2 linked regions of the Homo sapiens genome follow. The protein of the gene in region 1 purifies or fractionates together with the protein of each later gene. This does not show direct contact. Each region holds a gene or a part of one and is shown in the gene's direction. Other genes may lie near its edges. The genes, in order: GRM4 and CD99L2.

Region 1 (3,500 bases):
GTTAACATGAGAGAGGTTCTGTGTCATTAACTGCGGAGGAAGGAGATGACAAGAATTGTAATAATCAGGGCAGGCTTCCTGGAGGAGGAAGGATCTCAGCTGCTTCTTGAAGGGAGAGCTTCACAGAGAGGAGGCTGGAGGGAATCATAGGTTGGGGGAAGGCAGGGGCAATGGATTTAAAGTTTTCTGCTCCAAGTTTACACTGGCATTAGGCAAAAGAATTACTTCCTCTTTCCCTAAGAATTACCTTCCTTTTTTCCCTCCCTGCTCTCCTCTGGGGCATTCCACCCCATGCCCATGACAGAGCCAGTTGCCTCTGAATCAGGGCCCTGTTGTTTTGGCAGAACAGGGAGGGGACAGCTTGTGGATTGGGGTCTGGGATTTCTGACATCAGGAGGCTTCCTGGTCGAGGCTGGTGAGCCGGAGCAGCTCACGGGGGAAGGAAAGGGAAGCCGGTTGGGGCCAGACCCCCACTGTGCTTCTTGCTCTTAGCTCTTAGCATGCGGCTGTGGCCATTCTGGCTGACTGCCTGGGAGCAGGGCTTCTCTTTAGGCAGAATAAAGCCCCAGCTGGCCTGGGGTGGGTTGAAGGTTCCAAGATGCCTCCTTATAGCTGAATCAATCCTTAGTTTCCCTGCCTGAAACTATGCCTCACATTCCACCATTAGAATCAGTCCTGTGGGTTAAAGAGTTGCTTATGGAAGGGGCCTTAAACACAGAGATAGATTACTTGAACGAGAGGCCCTGGAATCATTTGGCTCACATCACGTCATTCATTCACCTCCACAAAGCCTGCTGGGGATGCCAGGCTCTGTGCAGGACTGGGCTGCAGAGGTCAGCACGAGGAGGGCTGTGCTGCGAGGATTTGAAGGGCTAACTGGTCATCCACCTTCCCCATGGCCTGCGAGTCGCACAGTGCAGCTGGCAGGGGTGGCACAGTTCTGACAACCCGATTCCTGTCCTGTCCTACAAACCACACCTCTGCCCAGCCAGTGGGGGCCCGGATGGATAGCAGAGGGGTCACAGAGCTGAGGGGAGGGGAGAGGCCTCCAGTTCTCCCTCATTTCCCCTTTGGGGCAGTGGCGCTGCCATCCCCCTTCTGGGAGATGTGGGATGTGGGTGATGAGGCATCTAAACAGCTCAGGAATTGAAACCAGACTCCACACAGCCATTCACAATTCTAGAGCGCTCCTGAGCACCTGGGCTGGGTGGGCCCTGCAGAGACAAAGGTGAATGGAGATGAAGGAAGTGCTGGTGGGAACACAGGGAAGGTTGGGAGCTGAGAGGAAGGTGGGAGGGAGCTCTTGGCCTGGCTCTTTTTGCTGAACCCCAAGGGGCTCGGGCCTGAGTCCCCAAGCCCTTTTCCTATGGGAGCTGACCCTCAGAGGGCCAAGAGCAGGAACCAGGGACTCTGGCAATGACCCTGACCCTGGGAAACAAAGGACAAGGTTGTTCTCTCGATTTACCCTTTATTCTGGTGTTTGGGTTTTGTTCTATTTTCTTAGTTTTGGAAGAATAAAAAGAAACTCAATGAAAAATAATTGGGGGTTTGGTAAATCACAGCAGTTCTCTTCGGATCCGGTTGTTGTTTTGTGGTTTGTGGTTCTTTCTGGCTTGGGCCCTGGATGCAGAGGGAAGGATTGAAGTTGGAAAAGCACGAAGGTCCTGCTTGTTAATATTATACTAAGAAGAGGGCCGGGCAAAGTGGCTGACACCTGTATTCCCAGTACTTTGGGAGGCTGAGGCTGGAGGATCGCTTGAGCTCAGGAGTTCGAGACCAGCCTGGGCAAGCGACATAGTGAGATGTCATCTCTGCAAAAAAAAAAAAAAAAAAAAAATTATGTGGGCATGATGGCGCATTCCTGTAGTCCCAGCTGTTCAGGAGGCTGAGGTAGGAGGATCGCTTGAGCCTGAGAGGTTGAGGCTGCAGTGAGTCGTGATTGCACCACTGCACTCCAGCCTAGGCAACAGAATGAGACCCTGTCTCAAAAAAAAAAGAAAAAAAAGGGACTTAGAAGTGGCCACAAGGCAGGTTCCTGGAGTTCCTGCACAAAAGCCCTAGATAACAGAGAGGTCCCAGCTGGGATGTGTGGGGACTCCCCCATCCCCCTTACCCTGACTGTTGGTTGGGGAAAGGGGTAGTCTGCAGCTGTCCCCCACCAGCTCCCCTTACATCCCCATTCACTGGAAAGAATGTTCTGGAAAACACTGTTGGCCTGAGAGCTGTTGCTATGTGGAGGTGACCCAGTCGCTCTCATCCCTGCCCCTCAGGGCTCTCATTCCTCCATGCCTGGCTCTGTCCTCCCCTGGAACCAAGGAACCTAGTGGAGCCAGAGAAGAGGAGAGAGACTGGGAGAGGGTGGTGGGGAAGGGAGAAGGAAAGGAAAGGGGGAAGAGGCCCGTCTGGGGGTGGGGCCCACACTGGCTTGGACTCACAGTCATCCCGATGATTTCACCTGGGGAAGGATGCCCCTAACTGACCCAGGCTTGAGCTCTCCTGGCTATTTTGGAATTGGCGGGGGAGTGTCTGAAAACTGGGCAAGGACTTTAAAGAAGGACCCCTTCTATGTGCCCCCAGCTCTTCCCTCTGCAGAAGGAAGCAGGCCCTGCGGGGGAAGGGAGCATCCGCCTGGCCCCCACCCCAACCCACCCCACCACACCCTGCCTCTGCTCTCAGTGGCTCCTTTCACTCATGGGGTATTTTTACTTTTCCCTTGTTCCTGTTACATGATCAAAGGAGGGAGGGGAAGCTAAAAGAGGCAGTGGCTTGCCCAGCTCTCTGGAGAAGCTCAGAAAAGGCAGGCCTGGTGGGACTGAGGGGTGGATAGGGACCTGTGGGCAGGGGCTGGGACCCAGTCCTGTGGGAGGGAAGTCTCGCAGGGGATCTGACCAGCTTGAGGCTCCAGGCTCTTGATTCTAATCTGCGGGTGTTTGCCTTTCTCCTCTTGGAGGCCTCCTTCCCCCATGGCATCTGTCCTTCCCCGTGTGTGTGTGTGTGTGTGTGTGTGTGTGTGTGTGTGTGTGTCCGCACGCGCGCATGCACTGCTCAGCCCAGACGTGCTCCGGCCTCAAGGAGAAGCCAGTGTGAGCCCTCACGAAGGATCTGGAAGCCTAAGCAGGGCCTGACTTCAAAAGCTGCTGTGCATTGGTCTCCCAGCCTGAATCTGCCCTGCTGTAGCCCCAGCACACAGCCTGTCATGATGCCAAAAAGCCCTCTGTTTGAAATTCATGGAAACCGATCATAAACTCACAGGACCTTAGAACTGGCAAGGCCTGAGAGATCCTCTGGGCCAGCACAGAGGAGCAGCCAGGGGCACGGGCAGCCTGCACAAGCTCTGTGCCCCTGGCTAGATGTTGCTTAAGCACTTGGTGCCTTGGCTTCCTCATCTGTGAGATAGGGATAAAAATACCATGAAGCTCATAGGGATGTGGGGATTACATGAGAAAATGTAGGTAAAGCACTTAGAACAGTGCTTGGCACATGGCAGTGGTTGTCTTTTG
Region 2 (4,014 bases), on another chromosome or scaffold:
GAGGTTTCACCGTGTTAGCCAGGATGGTCTCAATCTCCTGACCTCGTGATCCGCCTGCCTCGGCCTCCCAAAGTGCTGGGATTACAGGCGTGAGCCACCGTGCCCGGCCTCCTGTTCTGTTCTTTTCCCCACCTGGTGTTTTGCTTTTTCTGCTGTGTGTTCACTCTTAGGTGGGTTTATTTATTTATTTATTTTTATTATTTTTTTCCTTCGAGATGGAGTTTCAGTCTTGTTGCCCAGGCTGGAGTGCAATGGCGCGATCTTGGCTCACTGCAACCTCTGCCTCCTGGGTTCAAGCAATTCTCCTGCCTCAGCCTCCCGAGTAGCTGGAACTACAGGCATGTGCCACCACACCCGGCTAATTTTTTGTATTTTTAGTAGAGATGGGGTTTCTCCATGTTGGTCAGGCTGGTCTCCAACTCTCGACCTCAGGTGATCCACCTGCCTCAGCCTCCCAAAGTGCTGGGATTACCCAGCTCCCAAAGTGAGCCACCACGCCTGGCTCACTCTTAGGTTTTGTACTTTGCATGTTATTCCTCTTCTGCTCTTGGGTGCCTGGGAGGACTGGCTCAAGGGGTTCCTGTCCCCCAATCCAGACTGGACCCTCCCTGAGGCTAGGTCCATGACTGGTGAATGTTGGTTTGCATGCAAAAGCTTAACGTCATCGTAGACACCTATCAAGAACGGGCTGGAAAATCTTTCATGTAGGCACATGTTCCACATGGAGTGGGGTGGGAGGCTGTGGTAGAAAGAATAATAATGAGCCCCCAAAGACATCCACGTCCTGATCTCTGGAACCTGTGAATATGTTAGGCTCCATGGCAAGGGAAATTCAGTAAGGTAGCCGATGGAATTCAGGCCGCCAATCTGCTGACCTTAAAATATTATTATCCTGGATTATCCAGGTGGACCCAATGTAATCACCCGGGTCCTTTAAATACAGAAGAGGGAGGTAGAAGAGTCGGGGATTAGAGCCATGTCATATGGGAAGGACTCGCCTGGCCATTGCTGGCTTTGAAGATGGAGCAAGGGGCCAGGAACCAAGGACCACACAGCCTCTAGAAGCTGGAAAAGACAGGGAACAGATTTTTCTCTAAAGCCTCCAGAAGGAACACAGCCCTGCCCACACCTTGAGTTTAGCCCAATGAGACCTGGGTTGGACTTTTATCTCTAGAACTGTGAGATAATAAATGGGTATTGTTTTAAACTGTTGAATACAGTATATTTTGTTATAGCCAAAACAGGATGCTAGTAAGAAGCTAAGAGTTAGATACTAGCATCCTCTTCCTTGTTTGGAAAACTAGTATGTGATATTTCCTTACATTGTTTCAGTTTTACCATTTTAAAATCAATCCCTAGAATGCTCTAAGTTCAGCATTTTAAAATAAATGTGCAGAAAATTGGGTTGTAATGATGTTTTTGGTGCAGCAATGAATGTTTAGAAGCATATCTGAGGGCCCAGGAAGGTAGCTGGATTTCTGGCGCTTGCATTTGATTCCAAACTGCTTTACAAGGGGATGGGAGCCTGCACTTCTGCTTTGGAGCATGGCCCATGTTGCAGGCCACCTGCAGTGGGGGCCACTGGCTGTCTCCAGAGGCCTTTCCCACCCTTCTCCTCCAGTCCTGATGGCCGCACTTGAAGCAGGATGCAGCCTGGGGCCAGCAGACAGAGGGTTTCTGATTTGTGCAGGCCGCACTTGCCCCTTCGCTGAGGACGAGGAGGAGTGTGCTGCCAGCCTGCCTTTCTCCTGGCTGCCCTTACCAGTGCTGTGGCTTCAGCTAATTGTGTCCATTCCCTCTCTCTCAAGGTGGGGGCGGGGGTGTGGGGAGAGGACCAGACAGGAATGGGTGCACCTGAATCCCCCACTCCCACTTCAACCAGTGTTGTTTTTTGTTTGTTGGTTTGTTTTTTGAAAGCAAGTTTATTTTTATTTTATTTATATTATTATTTTTTGAGACAGAGTTTTGCTCTTGTCACCCAGGCTGGAGTGCAATGGCGCAATCTCGACTCACTGCAACCTCCGCCTCCCGGGTTCAAATGATTCTCCTGCCTCAGCCTCCTGAGGAGCCGGGATTACAGGCGCCTGCCACCTCGCCCAGCTAATTTTTGTATTTTCAGTAGAGACGGGGTTTCACCATGTTGGCCAGGCTGGTCTTGAACTCCTGACCTCAGGTGATCCACCTGTCATGGCCTCACAAAGTGCTGGGATTACAGGCGTGAGCCACTGTGCCCAGCCTGAAAGCAAGTTTATTTATTTATTTATTTATTTATTTATTTATTTTGAGACGGAGTCTCGCTCTCGCCCAGTCTGGAGTGCAGTGGTGCGATCTCGGCTCACTGCAAACTCCGCCTCCCGGGTTCATGCCATTCTCCTGCCTCAGCCTCCCGAGTAGCTGGGACTACAGGCGCCCACCTCCACGCCCAGCTAATTTTTTTGTATTTTTAGTAGAGACGGGGTTTCACCGTGTTAGCCAGGATGGTCTCGATCTCCTGACCTTGTGATCCGCCCGCCTCGGCCTCCCAAAGTGCTGGGATTACAGGCGTGAGCCACCGCGCCCGGCTAGCAAGTTTATTAAGAAAGTAAAAGAATGAAAGAATGGCTACTCCATAGGCAGAACAACTCCACTTCAACCAGTTTTGAGCTTTGTTTTTATTAGTTTTCTACCTCGGGCTTCTCACAAGATGTCAGAACGTTCTGCTGCTTTACAGCAGAAATATCTTTGAAAACTGCTGTAGTTGAATCCTATAGATATGACACCCCTGTTCAGTGAACATCTGTGTAGAGGAGAAGCTAGAAAACATCTAGCTGTCATTGTTAGGTGGTTGTATTTGGGATTATTTTCTAAATTAGAGGTGATACTCTCCACAGGAAGTATTACTGCAGTGTGGAATTTATTTCCACCAAAATAGTGCCCAGGCACAGCCGGGGCTCATTTTGACCTTCTACTTTTGTTTTTTTTTTTTTATTGCTGCTTCAACTAGCCTGGGATGGTGGAACTATATTGGGTATTTCTTTCAGCCTAAGGGCAATGTGGGGGAAAAAAAACTGAGATGTGAATGGCACTTGAGATACTAAGGAAACCCATGGGCTAACCCCAGGGAGGCCAGAGGACAAAGAAGCCCTTTGATGAAGCTCATACCGGTCAGTGGCCTGGGACACAGAGAGTGGATCTGAAGGGCAGATGGCAGGCAGCAGGCCTTATCCTGAATGAGCAGCCAGGACCCGTGTGGGGGCACTGTGGGTGAAACAGAGCAGGGTAAAACATGCACCTGCCCTCAAGGAGATTAAAGTCCAGACAGACCTGGAAGCAACTATACATAGTCACATGTATCTTAAAAGACACACAAGGATTCCATTATTGCTGTAGTGCTATCTGCCAAGAGGACACTTGCCCCCTTTCTCCCAGGTTGAAGGCCGTTGCTGTCGCCTATTGCTGCATAATGAACCTCCACACATTAGTGGCTTGAAACAACTGTTTACTATGCTCTTAGACTCCATAGGTTGGGAATTAGGATAATGCAGCAAGGATGGCTGTCTCTGCTCTACTGTATCTAGGACCTCAGCTAGGAGGACTCAAATGGCTGGGGGCTAGAATCATCTGGAGGTTTTTTTTTACTCACATGTCATAAAGGATGGGCTTAGCTGGGGCTGTCCACTGGAACACCCAAATGTGGCCTCTCTGGTTTGAGCTTCCTTATAGCAAGGCAACTGTATTTGAACTTCTTACATAGCCCCTTCAGGTTCTAAGCATGAACATTCCAGTAGACAAGGTAGAAAACAGATGGGCTTAGAAACCTTTTAAAAATTGTGGTAAAATACACATAACATTTACCATTTTAACCATTTTAAGGCACACAGTTCAGTGGCATTAAATACTTTTTTTGTGTGATCATCATCATTCCCCCTCCCCTAACCCCTGGCACTGGCTCATCTGCTTCCTATCTGGATTTGCCCATTCTGGACATTTCATAGCAACGGAATCAGGTAGTATTTGTCCTTTTGTGACTGGCTT

The links.
Region 2: the proteins of GRM4 (region 1) and CD99L2 purify together in Homo sapiens (affinity purification with mass spectrometry; one large-scale study listed by BioGRID and IntAct). This does not show direct contact.

The regions. Positions count from the first base shown.
Region 1 is NC_000006.12:34,136,088-34,139,587, reverse strand, and holds part of GRM4 (metabotropic glutamate receptor 4 isoform 1 precursor), read left to right. Parts: intron 1-3,500.
Region 2 is NC_000023.11:150,888,420-150,892,433, reverse strand, and holds part of CD99L2 (CD99 antigen-like protein 2 isoform 1 precursor), read left to right. Parts: intron 1-4,014. UniProt on the Homo sapiens protein: Plays a role in a late step of leukocyte extravasation helping cells to overcome the endothelial basement membrane. Acts at the same site as, but independently of, PECAM1.